Linked DNA regions of Homo sapiens. The protein of the gene in region 2 binds, or shares a complex with, the protein of the main gene of each other region. Each region holds a gene or a part of one and is shown on either strand. Other genes may lie near its edges.

Evidence for each region.
Region 1: the proteins of NTRK1 (region 2) and SHC1 are in contact, whole or in part, in an NMR structure (PDB 1SHC), measured with the Homo sapiens proteins. Residues at the interface, in NP_002520.2 of Homo sapiens: His489, Ile490, Ile491, Glu492, Asn493, Pro494, Gln495, Tyr496, Phe497; in NP_892113.4 of Homo sapiens: Met176, Arg177, Ala178, Leu179, Ser259, Ile260, Ser261, Phe262, Ala263, Ser264, Gly265, Gly266, Lys279, Asn283, Arg285, Ile301, Ile304, Gly305, Phe308, Glu309, Phe312, Lys313, Gln314, Tyr315.

The regions. Positions count from the first base shown.
Region 1 is NC_000001.11:154,967,948-154,972,247, forward strand, and holds the start of SHC1 (SHC-transforming protein 1), read right to left. Parts: upstream 2,801-4,300; 5' UTR 2,580-2,800; coding exon 2,085-2,579; intron 1,502-2,084; coding exon 1,431-1,501; intron 888-1,430; coding exon 824-887; intron 668-823; coding exon 548-667; intron 311-547; coding exon 257-310; intron 85-256; coding exon 33-84; intron 1-32. UniProt on the Homo sapiens protein: Signaling adapter that couples activated growth factor receptors to signaling pathways. Participates in a signaling cascade initiated by activated KIT and KITLG/SCF.
Region 2 is NC_000001.11:156,863,865-156,867,364, reverse strand, and holds part of NTRK1 (high affinity nerve growth factor receptor isoform 2 precursor), read right to left. Parts: intron 3,012-3,500; coding exon 2,937-3,011; intron 2,638-2,936; coding exon 2,566-2,637; intron 456-2,565; coding exon 387-455; intron 1-386. UniProt on the Homo sapiens protein: Receptor tyrosine kinase involved in the development and the maturation of the central and peripheral nervous systems through regulation of proliferation, differentiation and survival of sympathetic and nervous neurons.

The DNA.
Region 1 (4,300 bases), 1.9 Mb from region 2:
AGACCCACCCAGTGCTCCCCACCATGCCTCACCTCTCTGATTCACAGGGTCTTTGGCAACATAGGCGACATACTCGGCTGTGTCCTGGGGAGGAAGGTCAAAAAATTTTACAGTTCTACTTTACTCCTGACCCCTAAAACCCAGTCCTTTTCAGATATCCCCACAATCCTAGCACCCCCACTTCTCTAATCAATGTCTTCCCAATCCCTAGCCCCTTGCTCTTCTCCCACCGCCTTTGCTCTGTTCCCCAACTCACCGGATCCCCGCCGGATGCAAATGAGATAGATTGCATGTGGTGGTTGGCGATGATCTGAGAATTAGGGCAGGGGATGAAGAAGGAAGGGAATGCCATGTGTCAGGCAGCCTCAGGGCCCAGAACCCTGGTGCCCCAGTCTCATTCTCTGGGTTCCTTATCCCATATCCTCATTTCCTCCTTCCCTACTGGTCTCCTGCTCTCAAGCCCTCTTCCTAGATTTTGGCCTCCTAACTAGATCTCCCCTTAGCACCCCCATCAGTGTTTCTGGTCCGTCTGCCCACCTTCACCAACCTGTTTGCAGTCTGCGGCCATGAGGTTGAGGCTGCTGGTGGAGACGGTGAGAGTGATTGGCATTCCAGCAAATTTCAGGTTACTCCTCCCCAGGATAGAGCTGAGCGGGCGGCTACAGGGCTAAGGTAGGGCCCAGGGTCTCAGAAGGTGAGGGTTCCCAGCACAGGCAAACCACACTTTTGCCTCCTGGCCCTCTCCCCACATGCCCCACACTTGCCTCCCCACTGCCCCTCCACATTTCCCAGCAGCATCCCTATCCCCAAGGACCCCAAGTACCTTTCTCCTCCTTGTCGCCCCCTTAGCACCCGGCACAGCCTCACACACCAGACTGATGGCCTCCCTGGGGAAAGAGGGGTACTCAGACCCAGCGCCTGCCTGCCTGCCTCCCACTCAACTGGGGCTGCCACAGGGCTGGGGGAGGGGAAAGCCAGGCCAGACTCCCAGGGCACTCCAGGCTCTTTGTCATGGTGGATTGAATTAAGGGCCTTTAATATTTGATGACACTGAGAGGCCACTTCCTGGCTGATTGGGTTAGGGCCTCAATGGGTATAGCCCCACCCCCTTCCAGCTACCAAATGTCCCATTCCCTTCCCAAAGGCAGCAGCAACCTTCCATCTACCCCCCTTTTCTACTCCAGCTCCACCTGCCAGCTGCTTCTGCCACCTTCCCCACAACTCCCAAGGCTGGATAGGTAAGGAGGATCCGGGCCAAAGGGGCCTCCTTTCAGTAAGAGGCGGAATCACTACCTCAGCTTTCTCTCAATCCCCTTTACTACGCAAAGATCAGCCCCCAGCAGCAGCACCCAAGTGACCCACTCCCCTCCTCTGTTTCCCATGGCCTCACTAATCCCAGGACTCCCACAATCCACTCCCTCCCCACTAACCTGGTGACCTGAGTCCGGGTGTTGAAGTCCAGGGCACGCATTGACTGGAGGACCTCCACACAACCCATGTACTAAGGGGAGGGAGAAGAGGACAGCAGGTCAGCGGCTCCCCCACCCCAGCCCCTTCACAAAGGGCCCTAGGACTTTACCCATATGGTCCCTAAGGGAAGTAAAGAGGAAGAAGTTCTGCCCACTTCCCGTGGCTACATCCCACAACCAAGGTGAAAGACAACAGGGAATGAGGAGAAAAAGAAAAGGCAGGCTAGAAGGACCTCACACACTGGGGAGAGAGTTTGGAGGGGACCGACAGGCATTGGCTGGGATGGAGTGACAACTCCAGAAAGCGGGAGGAGAATGGAGGAAAGATCAAGAAGTCATTCATTCCAACACTTATTAAGAGCTTCTGCCATGCTGGGCATTGTGCTAAGCATGCCAGGGTGGGGGTGGGGGAGTGAAAAGAAGGAAGGGGGCCCAGGCAAAGCTGGAAGGGAAGGGGCTACAGAATCGGGGAAGGGATGAGAAAGGTTTAGGAAATAGGACACTGAAACGGGGTTGTTGGGGAACAGCAGGAAAAAAGAGATTCCGGCCAAGCTGGAGTGAGCATTAGAACTGGAGGGGGTCTGCGGGGGAATGGAGAGGAGGATGTTCACTCACCCGAACCAAGTAGGAAACCCCGGGTCCCATGACTTTGTCGTTGGGATGCAGCCAGCCCCGCGTGGGCTTATTGACAAAGCTCCCGTGGCGGGTCCACTCCTCGCCCCCAAGCTGGCCCCCTTCCACCCGAGTCCTGCGCCCGCCGCCTCCACTCAGCTTGTTCATGTCCTGGAGGAGGGGTAGGGGGCCTGAGTCTGGCATGGCTGCCCCTACGATCCCCTCCCCATCATCAGCTGCCCTTCCTGGCTCCCCCTTAGACCCTGGGCGCCCCCCAGCCGGGTTGGCCAGCCTCAGGTTGCTCATCCGGGGGAAGAAGGAGCACAGGGTAGTGGGACTATCGTCCCCAGGCAGAGGAGGCAGGATGGGCCCCAGGGATGAAGCTGATGGGGAAGGCAGCTCCTCCGGGGGGGTGGACCCAGAAGCCCCTTCCTCCAGCGATGACAGAGACTCATTCCGGAGTGGATTGTACTTGGGCTTGGGGGGCAGGAGATCCATAGTTGAGGTGAAAGAGGGGCTGCTGCCCAGCCTGGCCCCCCTGCCAGTTTGGGCAAGGGGGCCAGGCAGGGGGTATCCCCAGGCCCTTAGCCTGGTTGGACCTCTGTGGCCCAGGAGTCACAGAAGTCCTGGGGAGGGAGAGGGACAAGTGGCTTCCGCTCCCCAGCTCAGACCCAGACAGTTTCAGGCCCCATCCCCGCCCAACGTGGAGCCTCTTCTCTGGCTGAGAAGAGAACAGGCTGGACCCAGCGCTTCTGGCTCCTCCCCAGGGGCGGGGAGCTAAGGGGAGAGACCAATCGTGAGGACAGTGCTGACTCACAGGCTCAGAGGGGCTGAGCCCCCACCCCGCCCCAACCTCGAACTGGAGCAGGGGGTAGGGCTATCCAAGCCCCTCTCCCCTGCCCTATACAAACAACTAGTAATCTGGGGAGAAGTAAAGTGGGGGTGGGAGGGAAGGATGGAAGAGTGGGACGGAAAGGAAGGAGATAGGAGGTCTGGGTCACTCAAAACCGGACACACGCAGGCCAAAGGGGGCAGGAAGCCAGGCAGGAGTACAGGGGAATGAGGGAGGAAACAGAGGCAGCTGGGGGTGGAAAAGGGAGGAGATCTCAGAGCTCAGCATTTCCCTTCCTGTCCTGGTTGGACACTCGAATTCCCCCACCCTCTCTATGCCCGAAAGCTGGCTGGCCCCAGCCCAGGCCACCCCCAACCGCTACCCCATACAGTAAGCCTGGGCCATTAGCATCCTCTGCTACAGCAGCTGTGGACTGGAGCTAGCGAAGTGGGGATGGGAAGTAAGTGGTCCCAATGGATGCAGAGCAGGGCCAAGAGGAAGAGCAAAGCTGGTGAAAAAAGGGGAATAAAGTTCAACCTGGATGATACATCAGGAAGCTACCAGGCAAGAAGGGAACAAGAGGACATGCTGGTCACGGCTTGTTCTCTACGTATGCCATCTACCACACCAAGACCGATGGCTCATAGCCAAGCACTGTCCTGTCTCCCCTTTCCACAGGGCTTGTTAACACAGCACACTGTCAAGGGTGAGAATGAGGCAATCAGGTCCCCACTCCCACTCCAAACCACCCCAATTCACATCCCTCCTCTTACAGGGCCCTAAGCCCCACCAAAGAGCACAGCATCCTTCACACCAGGGAAGGAGCCTGGCTGGAGGAGGTGGAAGAAACAGTTCTCCAAGAGAAGTAGAAACTACAGGCCAGGAAGGGACAGAGAGATCAGAAGACACATCTGCGTCAATAAGGACAGGAGAAAAATAAGTACAGGAGAAAGGGGTGTCAGGAGAAGATGGGTTGAAGCTGGACACAGGGAACAGTCCCAAACCCATTCCTGCCACCCACGGCTTCCTGCCACTGCTCTTCCGGAGAATGCCACAGGCAAAGCTGGAAAGTGACCAAAAAAAAAAAAACAAAGATACGTATTCCTACCGGGCGCGGTGGCTCACACCTGTGATACCAGCACTTTGGGAGGCTGAGGCGGGTGGATCACCTGAAGTCAGGAGTTCGAGACCAGCCTGGTCAACATGGTGAAACCCTGTCTCTACTAAAAATACAAAAATTAGCTGGGCGTGGTGGCGGGCACCTGTAATCCCAGCTCAGGAGGCTGAGGCAGGAGAATCGCTCGAACCCAGGAGGCGGAGGTTGCAGTGAGCCGAGATCGAGCCATTGCACTCCAGCCTAGGTGACAAGAGCAAAACTCCGTCTCAA
Region 2 (3,500 bases):
GGAAGGGCACAGCCCCCCAGAGTGACCCAGAGGCTTTAAGTGCCCACCAGGTACACATGGACCCCTGCTGCCCCACTCACCCCTGTGCAGGGTGCCCTGGGAATGTGGGCAGATGTGCCTTGGACACACAGTGGGCCTGTAATCTGCTCAGCCAGGCCCAGCACACACACAGTCATCCAGGCCAGCTCCTCAGGGCAGTAGCCCCCTTAACGGGTAGTCCTGCAGCCCCTGCTTTGATGGGGGTTTCACTGGCATGCACATAGTCCCCAAAGAGACCCCCCAGCAGTGTCACACAGACACAGTGACCCAATGTCATCCAACAGACCCAAGTGCACACAGGCACACACACACTTGGTGCTCTTGCCCCTGGAAGCGCCCCCACTCACAGTTCCTGTAAGGAGAGGCCCTGCACAGTTTTCCAGGAGAGAGACTCCAGAGCGTTGAAGGAGAGATTCCTGCGGGCGTGGAGACACAGCAAGACAGACCCCTTGAGTGACCCGACCTCACTCTGACCAGAATGAGGGAGGGGAGGAGCCAAGAAAGAAGTTGACATCTGGCTCCCCCGCCCCGGCCTAGGCAACCAGAACCAGCCCTGGAAGGCAGTGTGTGTAGATGGTGGGGTGGGGGGTGGGGGGACTTTCTGAGTCCCACTCCTTTCCCTGGGACAACAAGGGTTAACCCCACTTAACCCCCTCTCCAGACCCCAGGGAGGGGGATCTGAGGGAACAGCCGCTCCTCCCTCCCCCACTGCTTTGGCCCCAGCTGGCAAAGTGCTGAGGCCACAGCTGGGGGAAGGGGTCCATCTGTGCTCCCCTCCCTACAGAGCCCAGGACGGGGCCAGAGGAAGAGGGGGAGGGTTGAGGCTGCCACTCCCTTGCCCCTACCTGACCACAAGGAACTCCACGCACTTCCTCAGCTCCCCTCCTCCTCCTCCTTCCGGGCCCTCCTCAGGGACTAAAAGGTCAGGCAGGAAAGGACCCACACCCCCACACCCCCAGCCCCCTCGTTGTATGGATGGAAAAAGTGAGCCCAGCAGGGGCCCGGCTCCAGGCCACACAGGAAAATGATGTAGGAGCCCCAGTGCCCTGTGCCCTGTGCCAGGCTGCCGCTGCTGGGACCCTCTGCCTCTGAGGGGCCTATCCTGACCCCTCTTCTTTCCTAGCCAACCTAGAATTTGTGGTGGCTGGGTGGGAGAAGTACCACCACATAGGGACCAAAGACACAACCCACTCTAGAGCCAGCTAGAGCAGGTGTAAGTTCTATCCTGCCACTTACAGCTGTGTGACCTCAGTCCAGAAACTCAACCTCTCTGATTCTCAGAATTCTCATCTATGAAATGGGGACAAGAACACTCTCTCTCTCACCAGGTTGATTGTGAAGATTCATTGACATAAGTATCGTGAAGTGTCATTGAGCACGTTTTTAACTGAAGCCCCGGTGCATAGACGGTGATATGACATCACTTTATTTTGCTTTGTTAAATTGCTGGACACAGCAGAGTTTAGAGGACCCTGCATAACTCCATGAGTGTCAGCCCCACCATCCTTCCCATCTCTCTGCCTGCTCATATTGGGGGACAGGGGAGCTGAACTCCTGCCCTCAGAAGGCCAGGGAGGGGCTGCCAGGGACTCTGATAGTCTCTCCTGCCCATCCCATGACCCTCTCTGTCCTACAGCAGGGGTCCCCAATTCCCAGGCCACAGATGGGTAATAGTGCCACTATTCTCCAGCCTGAGCAACAGAGGGAGACCCTGACTCTTAAAAAATAAATTAAAGAAAAAGAGAAGCACAGCAAGGAAGAGGGGCTATAAACAGGGCAAATATGTGGTCTCTTAGGAACCGGGCCACACAGCAGGAGGTGAGCAGCGGTGAGTGAGCATTACCGCCTGAGCTCCGCCTCCTGTCATATCAATGGCAGCATTAGATTCTGTGAACTACTGCGCACGTGAGGGATCTAGGTTGTGTGCTCCTTTTGAGAATCTAACTAATGCCTCATAATCTGAGGTGGAACAGTTTCGTCCTGAAATCATCCTCTCCTCCCGCACCATCCGTGGTAAAATTGTCTTCCATGAAACCAGTCTCTGGTGCCAAAAAAGTTGGGGTCCACTGCTCTACAGGAGGGATAGTTATGACTCCCAGGAATGAGGAGGGTGACAAGTGGCAGACCTAACACCCCAGCTCCCAGGATGTCCTAGGGGCCAAGTCAATGAGTCCCTGGGAAATGGAGTCCCAGCCAGAACCCAGGAGTCCTGCTCCTGCCGCTTGCTCCCTTTGCACTGGTGTGTATCTGAGCCCTGGGAAGAAAGATAGGGCAGGCACCTATGAGAAGTGTCCTTGCAGCATGGACCATGGAAGTGAGATGGCAAGGAGGACCTCTAGCTGTCAGGGGCGAGAGCATGCCATCCCTGAGGGAGATGGGAGGAAGCCCCAGGAGAATGGTGAGGTGACTTCCCTGACCAGGCTTGGGCCCTCCTCGCAATCATTCCCCGGGGACAGCCAAGCCCATTAGCAGCCCAAGTCTGGGTGTCCTCCCCAACTCCCACTGCCCAGCACTGGCCACACTCACAGGCGACTGAGCCGAGGAGTGAAATGGAAGGCATCTGGCGCCACGAAACGGAGACCACTCTTCACGATGGTGCTGGGGAGGGGTGCAGGAGGATCAGTCCCCAGGTCTCAGCTACTCTGGGCCCCTGGCCCTCCCTGCCCATCCCAGCCTCCCAGTCCCCTGTGCTGAACCCCTACCCCTCCTCAGGCCCCTCATTGTTTCCTCAACTACTCTAGACCCCTCAAAGCCCTGAGCTTCCTGACTTCTCCCAGTCCCTCAGTGCTCAGCCTCTCAGGTCCTCCCAGGCCCTCGGATGCTTGAGCCCTCCCTGACCTTCTGGTCTCCCCCAGGCCCATGCTGAGCTCCACACCCACAGTCCCCGTTTCCCTCACAGGTTTCTCAGCTCCCCCAGGCCCCTCAGATCACGGAGCTCCAGATGCTGCAGATGCTGCTGGTTCTCGATGTAGCTGTGGGGAGAGCGGATGGGAGTCACAGGGCTCAGGCCCACACTTGAGTTCCCATGCCCACCCACTTACTCCCTCACAATACACATGCACATGCCACATGCACACGCATATGCACCTGTTCAGACCTGCATACACACTTACACAGGCGTGCACACACAAATGCATACATGTGCACAGAGACGCACCTCAAGTCACACATGCACATGTGTGTGCATGAACACACAAGCGCACATACATATGGATCCCCACACCCTCACACATATGCACATTCTCACATACCTCTTGCACACATGCACACACCTAGGTATGCACATGCGCACACACAGAGGCATAAGCATCTGCACAGATGACGCCATGCACCTGCACATGTGCCTGCAGGAACACGCTCACCCATGGACACACAGAAACAAAGCTCACGTCCATCTCTCACGTGCACACACACAAGTCCATTCTCAGATTGGTGTTCTCCTTTTATATCAGGCATCCCTG